Linked DNA regions of Homo sapiens: region 2 is linked to region 1. The links come from fine-mapping of genetic effects on gene expression. A gene starts in region 1. The other region holds a variant in brackets. All regions are shown on one strand. Distances are from middle to middle.

Region 1 (5,376 bases):
TGAGGTAATATAAATGGACTAATATCTGGGATATGGTGACAAATCTTCCAAAGAGCACAATATTTTTTGCAAACAAGAAATTAGGGCCTGAGATAATTAGGAGAAATGTAAGTTCCCAATGAAACTCTGGAGATATTGGCAGGTATGCTGGGTTTCTTAAGTGGTACACAGGTTTGGAGTCAATTGTACTTAAATTTTAAAGGACAGTGACCCCAGCTGCCCTAAGGATGATTGTAGAGGGTAATCCAGGCAGCTGATCCATGGAAGCATGCATGCCTCCCTACCTCAAAATATTTCAATCTTTATGCACTCTTTAAATCTTGTAGGAAGAGGCGGACTTCTCTGACTTTTTGCTCACCCCTTTCCCCCTTCCCATCTACTTTTCCTTTTCTGGTTTCTTGCACCATCAATTATCCTACATCTATCTGCCATTCTCCCCTCTCAGCTCCTTTAGTTAAGGTCTCCCCACTCAAGTTAGGAAAAAAAAAAAAAAAATCACCGGCCAGGCATGGTGGCTCATGCCTGTAATTCCAACACTTTGGGAGGCTAAGGCAGGTGGATCACCTTAGGTCAGGAGTTCGAGACCAGCCTGGCCAACATGGCGAACCCCCATCTCTACTAAAAATACAAAAATTAGGGCCGGGTGCGGTGGCTCATGCATGTAATCCCAGCACTTTCGGAGGCCGAGGCGGGTGGATGACCTGAGTTCAGGAGTTTGAGACCAGCCTGACCAACATGTTGAAACCCCATTTCCACTAAAAATACAAAATTAGTCAGGCATGGTGGCGCATGCCTGTAATCCCAGCTACTCGGGAGGCTGAGGCAGGAGAATCGGTTGAACCCAGGAGGCAGAGGTTGCAGTGAGCCGAGATTGTGCCATTGCACTGCAGCCTGGGCAACAAGAGCGAAACTCTCTCTCAAAAAAAAAAAAAAAAAAAAAAAAAAAAAAAGCCAGGCATGGTGGCGTGCGCCTGTAATTCCAGCTACTTTGAAGGCTGAGGCTGGATTATCACTGGAACTCTGGAGGTAGAGGTTGCAGTGAGCCGAGACCACGCAATTGCACTACAGCCTGGGCTGCGAGACCGAAACTCCGTCTCCAAAGACAAAAAAAAAAAACAAAAAACAATCAACTTTTCCCTTTACTCTTTTGCAGAGAGGGAGGGTCTCGCTATGTTGCCCAGGCTGAACTCAAACTTCTCGGCTTAAGGGATGCTTTTGCCTCAGCTTCCACAGTAGGACCCAACTTTCTCCTTTACTCTTGGTACTTCTTGAGCTCCAGGCCTACTTTTCTCTCTCTCACTGCCAAACATTTGAAATCATCACCCTTTATTAACTCCATTGCTTCATTGGCTAACATACTCTTTAGACAAGCTCTTCAACTCAGTTCTGTGCCTGGTGCACAGCAGGCTCCGGCTGCATGTTAGTTCCAGCCATCTTGCACATTTGCATCTCCTTCCTGGAGAAGGAATTTCTCCATGGTTAGCAGTGTGTGCTCACTCCTAGTCACCAGGGCCTCATCTCCGTGTTCCCACACCCTGACCTTGCTGCCGCCCTAATGCTGCGGACCCAGTTTCCAGGTACGCCGGGTTCTTGGAAGGTCCTGCCGGTCACCCTCCCAGCCTTCTGCCAGACTCACTGAGTTCTCACCCTGCACAGTCATCGTTTCCCCAGTAACCCTGAGAGATCTCCCAGTCTACCTCTTCGAGGCACCCGTTGCCAGTCCTCCATCTCTGTTTGCCGCGCGTCCCTCGGTTACCCCAGAGGCAACACGTCAGGCTGCCCCGCACCTCCAAGCCTGCGCGAATGTCCTTGTAGCCAGCTATGACCAAACATTTAGGGCGCACCTGAGCGCCAGGCCCACGCCACCCCTGCTTGCTTTCACTTAACAGCCTCGACTAGGCCCCCTATGCGCCAGGTCTCAGTGAAGAGGACGCAGTCCCGGGTCCTGGGCGCTCTTTGCCGGGCGAGACAGCTGCGTAGGCAGATCCTGTTCCTCTAGTGGGCGGCCTCGGCCCCTGCCCCTGCCCCGAGGCGCGTCAGAGGACAAGAGGCCCAGGTCGCTGGCAGCGGCTGCCTGCCCGACCGCACAGGGTGCCTAGCACGGGTGGCGGGGACTGGAGCCGGGCGGGGGCCGGCCGGGGTCGGGGGTCCAGCCCTGAGCGGCGCCGTCCCCGCCCCGCCCCGTCCCGTCGCGTCCCGCCCCGCCCTACCCGCCGCCGCCGTCGTCGCCGTCGCCGGGCCTGCGCCGCGCAGCCCGCCTCGGGCGGGAGGCGGGAGGCGGGAGGCCGGGCCCAGGCCGGGGCAGCCCCTCCACCGCACCGTCCTGGGCCGGTGCCCAGGTCCGAGTCGCCTTCCGCCTGCCCCCCCCCCCCCCCAATCCCCCGCCGCGGCAGCCCCAGCCAGGTCCCGCCGCCAGGCCGGCTCCCGCCCCCGCTCCGCCCCCGGAGCCGCAGCCCCGCCCGCCATCGCCGTCGCCATGTTGTGGCTCCCGCAGCCGGCGCTGGGGACGCGCGCGGCCGAGACTCTGGCCTGCAGTCGCCGCCGCCGCCGCCAGGTAAGCGCCCCCCGCGGGCCGGGCCGAGCGGGGCCTGCGGGCCGGGGCAGCCCCAGCCTGGGCCCGGGAGGATCGCAGCCGGGACCGAGTCCGAGCCCGAGCCGGGGCCCGGCCCTGCAGCCTGGCGGACCCTGGCCGCCGCCAGAGGCGGCAGCCACTTCCCCCGACCGCCGCCTGGCGGGCCCGGGCCGCCACCCCACCCCGCCCCCGGCCGTCGGGCGCCGGCCCCTTCCGCCGCTGCGACCGCCGCTGCGACCGCCGCTCCTTGGCAGGCCGGGCACGCTGCTGTCCTCCGCGCTGGGCGGGACGTGCGGCCGCCCTCGGCGATAGCCGGCGGCCCCCAGCCCGGGCACGGATAACGGTGCCACTTTCTCCCTCTGGGACGGCCTGTCAGCCCGACCGTCCCCGCCGCCCGAAGAGCTGTCGCCGTCACAGGGCAGACACTTCGGGGAACGACCCTCTTTGGCGCTCCTCAGTACTCCCCTCCCCTGAGCCCAAGTTCTGACCCTGAGGAAGGTTTCTCCCGGAGCAGACAGGTATTCCTAGAGCTCCAGAGTTGGGGTCCTCAGGGGTGACCAGGCCTGTTGATCAGGGTGAAAATTGTCTCTCTGCAAGGGCTCTTCCTGCCAACGAGGGGGTTGGCGGGAGGCTCAGTGTGACCTGAGGGAGGACAGGAGAGCGTCTGCTGGACAGATGGCCTCCTGGCCTTGGATCAGCGTTTGTGAGGGGGAGGGGTCCGTATGACCTTAGGTATGCCTGCTCCTGAGTACTGCAGGATTATTGAAGCTGTTTAGGGATTTTAAACCATTTTTTGAGTAGGCCAAAGGTGGCATTAAAGGTCCTGGATTGGAATAAGTCCACAGGCCCACCCAGGGAAGCATGTTTGGCATCCAGGACTAGTCTAGAATAGGACTGGCAGTAGAAGAATGGGACTTGGGGAGTAAGACGGTATTTGGCTTATGGTTTGCCCACTTGAGTTCAGGCCTGTGCTCATGGAGGGCCTGTAGGGTGCTTCTGTCGCGGGTGCAGTGTGGTGCACAGTGTGGCAGAGTGCGGAGGATGTGGACAGACAGATTCCTGGCCTGGTGGATGCTTGGTGGTATTTTAGTAGTCTGTTTCCTCAACCTCACTGTTACGTTACACAGTGAAAGGGGCAGAAGTGTGGTGCTAGTGCGTCCATTTTGATCATTTTCCAATTTTTCAACTAGTTGTGGCTTTGATTCATTAAATAAATTTTTACTGAGCACTTACTCTGTGCCAGGCACTGAGCTAGGTGTTGGGAGTACATTGGTAAGCCAGAAAGATACCATGTTTTAGTTCTTAGCCATTGGGAAAGTCTAATAATTAATAGTCGTGGCCGGGCGCGGTGGCTCGCGCCTGTAATCCCAGCACTTTGGGAGGCCGAGGCGGGTGGATCGCCTGAGATCAGGAGTTCGAGACCAGCCTGACCAACATGGTGAAACCCCGTCTCCACTAAAAAAATACAAAATTAGCCGGGTGTGGTGGTGCATGCCTGTAATCCCAGCTACTTGGGAGGCTGAGGCACGATAATTGCTTGAACCCGGGAGGCGGAGGTTGCAGTGACCTGAGATCGTGCCGTTGCACTCTAGCTTGGGCTACAGAGTGAGACTCCATCTCAAAATAAATAAATAGTCGTGGAAATTTATTCAACAACAAATATTTGTCAACAAATACGTGTTAGGCATTGTTCTAGATGCAGTGAACAAAGAAAGCAAAAATGATTGCCCTTGTGGTGCTTTCCTGGGAGTGGGGGAGAAGACAATAAATAAAATATATAACAAAAATATAGTCTGTTAAAAAGTGTGAAATGCTAAGGAGAAGAAGGAAGCAGGGAAGGAGAATCTGAGGTATCAGGGGTGGTAGTTGAATTTATATTATACGGTGGCCTGGGAAGGCTTCCTAAGAAGGTGTCTTTCGAGTAAAACTTGGAAGTGGTAAACTAATAATTCAAACTATAGTGAATATAAGAAGAGAAAGCTGAAGAGAGGGGTAAGAGACCGATTTGAGTTGGGGGCTCAGGGAAGCCTTCCCTGGGGAAGTGATGTTTAGGCCAAGATCTGAAGGAGGGTTAAGAGTTAACCATGTGTGGAGCTGACTGTAGCAAGGAGGAAGTGAAAGAGGCCTGTGGGGCTGGAGGGGGAAAGGGAGAGGGGAGATTAGTCTGGAGACTAGGGCCAAATTAGAGCAATGGGGCCTTGGGGGCAGAATGCCTCCCTCCTTAGTTTGGTTTGTATCTCCAGTGTAATTAGGAACCTTTGAAGGGTTTAAGGGAATGACATGATATTTACATTTTAAAAGGTGTCTAGCCCCTGTGCAGGGAATGGACTTTTGAGATAAGCAGGTAAGGCAAGGCTTTCTGGGTTGAGTGGCTTAACTACCTGATCTGTTTGGAAAAGCCTCAAGCAGTCTGGGGGAGATCCTTTGCCTCTGTGAGTCTGCTTCATCCAGCTTTTAGGAAGGGAAGGCAAAAATGAATTAACATTTATGGAGTACCTGCCAGGTGGGAGAACCAATTTTAAAGACTTCTGCATACATTATTGTATTTAACTTAGTCCTCTCTACACCCTAAGAAAAAGAGGTTATCATACCCATTTTACAAAGAAATAAATGCAGAGGGGATAGATGACTTATTCAAAGCCACATTTGTAACATAGCCTGGATTCAAAGCACGTCTGCCTGAATTCAGAGCCCACTGGCTCTGGAGCCAGACCACTGAAGTTTGCATTTTGCTCCTGTCACTTGCTAACCAATGATCTTGAGTTATTTAGCCTCTCTTGTGCCTCAGTTTGCTCACATTTTAA
Region 2 (5,376 bases), 80 kb before region 1:
CAGTAGGTAGGGAAGTGACCAGGCACTCCAGGCAGAGTGACCAGCATAAACAAAGACAGAATGTCTGTACCGTAAGACCAACGTCCAGGGTGCAAGAATGTGATGTCTGGTGAGAGTGCAGCTGGAAAAATCCTTAGGACCTAGAATGACACATGGAAGGCAACATCTTCACCATTTTTTGGTAAGCCCTGCGCATTCTAGTTTTGATAATGCTTTTTGGTTACACAGCATTCTTTCTATATCCAGAGAGGTTTTATTTGCTAATTGAATGGCAATAACTATGGTGGCTTCACACCCACCATAGTTGTGTGTGAAGGGTCATATTTGCTATTTTACTTCTGAAAGCCTACCTTGTATTACTTACTGTTCTAGCAAGAGACAGTAGTGGTGAAGATATACCTGGCTACAAAACAACCTGAACAGGCCATCCTGAGTGAAAGAGCTGCTTGATGAAGGTAGACATCCATTTACCTAGCTAGAACCAGCTGGGTCATCTCTGAAGTTTAACAGTGGAAAATGTCATAAGAAGAGGCCCAGCCCTCAGATTCTGAAATCAGCCTCCATGCCACGTTCTGAGAGGTTAGCTAGACTTGGTAAAAGGCTTATGCAAATACTAAGAAATGTACTCAGGATAACAGAGAATTTCTCTATTCCAAGCCCTGGGTCTCTAAGAAGGAAGCCTGTGATTCCTTAAGAAAAATGATACATGCCAATACTTCTCCCATCAAGAAAGAAGACACAACAGCCTAAGCCTAAGGACACACACAAAAAAGAAGGAAGCAGGATTAACAGTTAAAAATCTGGGAAGGGTACATGCTGTTTAAATGGAACCATGGAGAGAGAAAGTTTTCAGATTCAAATTTGGCAAGACCAAGAAAATGTACTTACTAAATAACAGGAAAGTACAGATCACTTTAATGATTCATATGCTCTGCCTCCAAATAACAGCTCAACAACAATGCTAACTGAAGCTACTGCCTCTGACTACAATGCATGATCGTACTGAACATTTAATAGATGCTGTTTCAGGCTACTGAGGAAAGACAGAACAGTGTCTATGAAATGGGGCTCCTGTCCTGGAGGAGCTTACAATCTGCCAAGGACCTCGAGGCCATATCCACAAATTTAAACAAACAGTGTGAGGGTGCAAATGCTGAGTGACAGCAGAACTTGTGAAGACGGTAAGACTCAGATAAACAGAAATAAGATGACATAATACAAGTGGAAACACTCAGCAAAGGAGGAAAAATAATACTTTTACACAACTGGTTGTGAATGAAATTTTTTTTTTTTTTTTTTTCTGAGATAGAGTCTCTGTCACCCAGGGTGGAATGCAGTGGCACAATCTGCAACCTCTGCCTTCCAGGTTCAAGCCATTCCCCTGCCTCCACCTCCCAAGTAGCTGGGATTACAGGCACATGCCATCAGGGCCAGCTAATTTTTGTATTTTTAGTAGAGACAGGGTTTCACCATGTTGGCCAGGCTGGTCTCAAACTCCTGACATCAAGTGATCCACCCACCTCGGCCTCCCAAAGCGCTGGGATTACAGGCATGACCCACCACGCCCAGCCCGAGTGAGTAAAGTATTAATGTCTTCCTCCCAATAAGTGTATAAGGAGGAGGGATTGGATAGATGAGGACATAAGTACAAGGATGTTTGCACTCATAAGGATGCTTACTGTTGGTGGAATTCAAAGTTTGAATTCAATGTAGGGAAAGGGTAGTATGAACACAAAATTTATGGTCCAAACAAGAAGCATTTCTGAAAGTAAAAGGCAGGCTAAAACTAAGTATTAATAACAGGTGGTAATTATCCAAAACAGGCACAGACTGGCACACTGCAGGGTGACCAGTACACAAGCAACAGGGAGCCACTGAATAAGTATTTCTGGATTCAGGTGATGGCAATGAGAATGGAATGATGGGGTAAATGGAGGACTTAGTACGTGGCTAGATATGGTAGGGAAATGACAAATCTAGGTGAATATTCCTTCACAGAAAACATGAAATATGGAGGGGAAGTTTTCAGGAACTTGAGTTTAAAGACGGGACAATCAAGTGGAAGTGTCCAGAGGAAAGGGAGACATGGAACTAGAACTGAGGACAGACATTGGAAATAATTTAAAAAGATTGATTAGCAGGCGGTATAAGAGCAGACAAGTAACAGCCAAAGAGATAATCCCATTATCAATTTCTCATTTGAAGTTTGATCAATTTTCATACTCTTGTTCAATTCCTTTCACTCACAATGGTTGAGCCCTCCCAATTCTCCACTTGCCCTGCCAAATCTCAAAGAGCTTATCACGCCATTCAATTAGCAAATAAAACCTCTCTGGCATTTCTTACATTTGCAAAGAGCTTTTAGG[A/G]TATATTTGCTAATAAAATCTCCCATTTTAAGTCTTATGTTTAGCACTAAACTAGACAAGATAAAAATTGGGAATATAATACCCCTCCCCACAAGTAATCTTTTTATTTTTGGCTAATGGAGTGATTCAAATATTATTAAATGATTTGATTACCTTTTCAGAGAAACTTAGTTGTTGCTTGCAACTACAGCATCCAGGAAAGGAGGAAAAATAATACTTATATAAAACTGGTTGCGAATATATGCAAGGGAAAAAAGTATTAATGTTTTCTTCCCAATACATTTATAAGGAGAAATCTGGAGTAGATGAAGATACAAGTACAAGGATGTTTACATTCAGGCAAGCTAGGATCACAGAGAACCCTAGGATCCCAACCTTGGCCAGCAAAGCACACTGCTTCTCCCCTAGAGTAGTCCTAGAAAGGCTGGTACAAAAACCAGTGTACTGATTAGGCTGAGCAGTGAACTGCATCTTCCACAGGTGATGAGGGGGGAAAAAATGGAATAAATGGCAATTTCCTGCTATTCCACACAGGGAATGTTCAGCTTCTGGTTCATGAGAAAATATAAGTACTATATACGCCTCACAGACAGGTTCAAAAAAGCATTTGTTAGCAGTGATTTGCCAAGTTTCATACTCTGTTGAGAATATTAAGAGCCCATATCCAAAGTTGGAAGGCTAAAGCCTGGTTAATGGGTTTAGGAAGGTACTATTCTCCACAGGGGAGGGCTTCAGAAGAGTAATTGTCCCTGTTCTCATGCCATTAGCATTACGGCATAGACTGATTTCCACTGCAGTTGAACAAATAATAGAAACTGTTCAAGTAGCCTAACACAGAAAACTCACTTTAAGATTTCACATTAATACAACAAGAGAACAGATAGAATTAAGTGTATTTTGTGCTCAAAAGATATTGGTTTACTCTATACTCCCTATTTCCCTCACTGCCTTGATATTAAAAGAAAACATACAATTGGGTTGTGCACTCACTACTTTAAACTGCTTGCTTTAAGTCTGCATTAGAGAAATGCAAAGTCAGGCACTTGAGAGAACAGGTTCAGACAAATGAGACTTTAAAGACGCCAAGCAGAATGCTTGTCCTCCAGCCCTTTCCTCTGCCTCTAGATGCTAATGCACACTGCCTTGGTGTAGAAAGGACTGAAATGTCTCAAGTGTAGAAAGGGTTATGACTTTTTATAACCAAGTGAGATTTTCTGAACCTCTCAGCAACACTAGCTGGGTTTTATACACATCTGAGTCATGGGAAGAATCAATTTTATGACTAAGAGATTTCCTATGACTGTCAGTGGCTACTTTTGCTTCACACACACACACACACACACACACACACACACACACGCAAAACAGACAAACAAAAAAACTAGTTGTTAGTATCAGAGCAACCTTCTTAGCTGAAGGACTGTTCACACCAAGCCTTTATATCCCCCAGGGGTACTAAGAACCAGCCAAGGAAGGCAAATTTCAGAAGCTTTCCCGACAAACACAATTCAGGGATAAGGGGTTCAATGTGCAAAGTCTTTTATTTAAAATTTTAGAAGTTAAGACTTACGACCACCTCAGTATATGCCATTCCTAATAGAAGGAGGTATGACGGTTTCAAACTCGTGCAGAGCTGCATTTTCATTTACAAGTCTCTGTAGGCACTTTAGAAGTGAAGCTTGGCTTCAAAATACAAACACTGGGGGCTTTGGCTCAACCTTTTAATATAAAAAAATTCACTGATGTACAAAAATTTGAAAGTGTGACAATGACAATTATGAAATCCTGTGACTGAAAGTCCCCTCGAGTGCACTCTGTGGTGCACATGCGCCCGCCCACACAAACTCTGGCATGGAAACATAAACTAATGCAAACCAGTGCTACCCAGAAGCACCAACACGTGTGTTCTCCATTCCACCAATCACAGACCAGTATCTACTCCAAACATCCAGTAACGAAAACTATGGCATCTTCCCAGGAACAGCAAGGCAGGCTTCTTACTCACGATGAACCAGCACGAATAAACCCAGCAAAAAGAGAACTGCATACTAGAAAATAAACACAGAACCACAAGTCAGAGAAGCGTTGAAAAGTTCAGAGGTTCTAAGAGTTAATTAACAAATTGGTCTTTGTGAATATATCGCTAAACTACCCAATTATTCTTTCATCTTTTAACTATAATCCATTTAAAAGTTTCCAATACTAAGCAAAATATCACATTTCTTTAAATAATTTTCTTTTTTTTTTTTTTTTGAGACAGTCTCACTTTGTCACCCAGGCTGGAGTGCAGCAGCAACCTCCACCTATCATATTCAAGCAATTCTCGTGCCTCAGCCTCCCCAGTAGCTGGGATTACAGGTGTGTACCACCATTCCTGGCTAATTTTTTTGTATTTTTAGTAAAGACAGGGTTTTGTCATATTGACCAGGCTGTTCTCGAACTCCTGACCTCAGGTGATCTGCCTGCCTCAGCCTCCCAAAGTGCTGGGATTACAGGCGTGAGCCACTGCGCCCAGGCTAATAATTTTTTTTTTTTTTTAATAGAGACGGGGTTTCGCTATGTTGCCCAGGCTGGTCTTGAACTCCTGGGCTCAAGCGATCCACTCACCTCGGCCTCCCAGAGTGCTGGGATTACAGGCTTGAGCCACTGTGCCTGGCCCAAAAGATTACATTTTTTAATAAAACAAATAATACAGACTCTTACCTTAAATTTAGGATAGTCATTCATGAGGATCGTCACAATTCCAATATAAGGAACAAATCTAAAACAAACAAAAAACTGATTATCACAGAATTTCCGATGTAAAGCAGCTGTTGTCACTCACTGAATATTATCAATATCTTCTATAGAATACTAATTTTCAATTCACAAAGTCCATTTCTATATACTGCCCTATTTGATCCTTGCAAAAGCCCAAGTGATAGGAAAGTTAGGAATATCACCATTTTAGAGATGAGGAAACAGATGATCATGCCCAAGGTACATGGTTTCTGTGTGGCAGAACCAGCAC

Alleles and levels. Alleles are on the strand shown, and positions count from the first base shown. SD is a standard deviation of normalised expression in the study named.
For the expression in stomach of the gene that starts at base 2,482 in region 1, G is the high allele of the variant in region 2 and A is the other (large effect, 1.1 SD a copy in GTEx).

The links. PIP is the estimated chance that this variant, and not a neighbour inherited with it, causes the effect.
Region 2: its variant is the best candidate, but not a certain one, in a credible set for the expression of ZNF592 in stomach (GTEx, PIP 0.66).

What each region holds. Positions count from the first base shown.
Region 1 is chr15:84,746,111-84,751,486 of GRCh38, forward strand. It overlaps ZNF592 (zinc finger protein 592), which reads left to right and starts at 2,482. Exons shown (of 11, transcript NM_014630.3): 1 at 2,482-2,554. RefSeq lists enhancers at 1,634-1,933, 2,006-2,845, 3,374-3,453 and silencers at 2,004-2,423, 2,484-2,973.
Region 2 is chr15:84,665,656-84,671,031 of GRCh38, forward strand. It overlaps SEC11A (SEC11 homolog A, signal peptidase complex subunit), which reads right to left. Exons shown (of 6, transcript NM_014300.4): 5 at 5,070-5,127; 6 at 3,889-4,414. The coding sequence ends at 4,364. Among named protein-coding and RNA genes, the nearest start is that of NMB, 10 kb to the left of the region's middle. The variant A/G (reference allele first, on the strand shown) is at 2,367.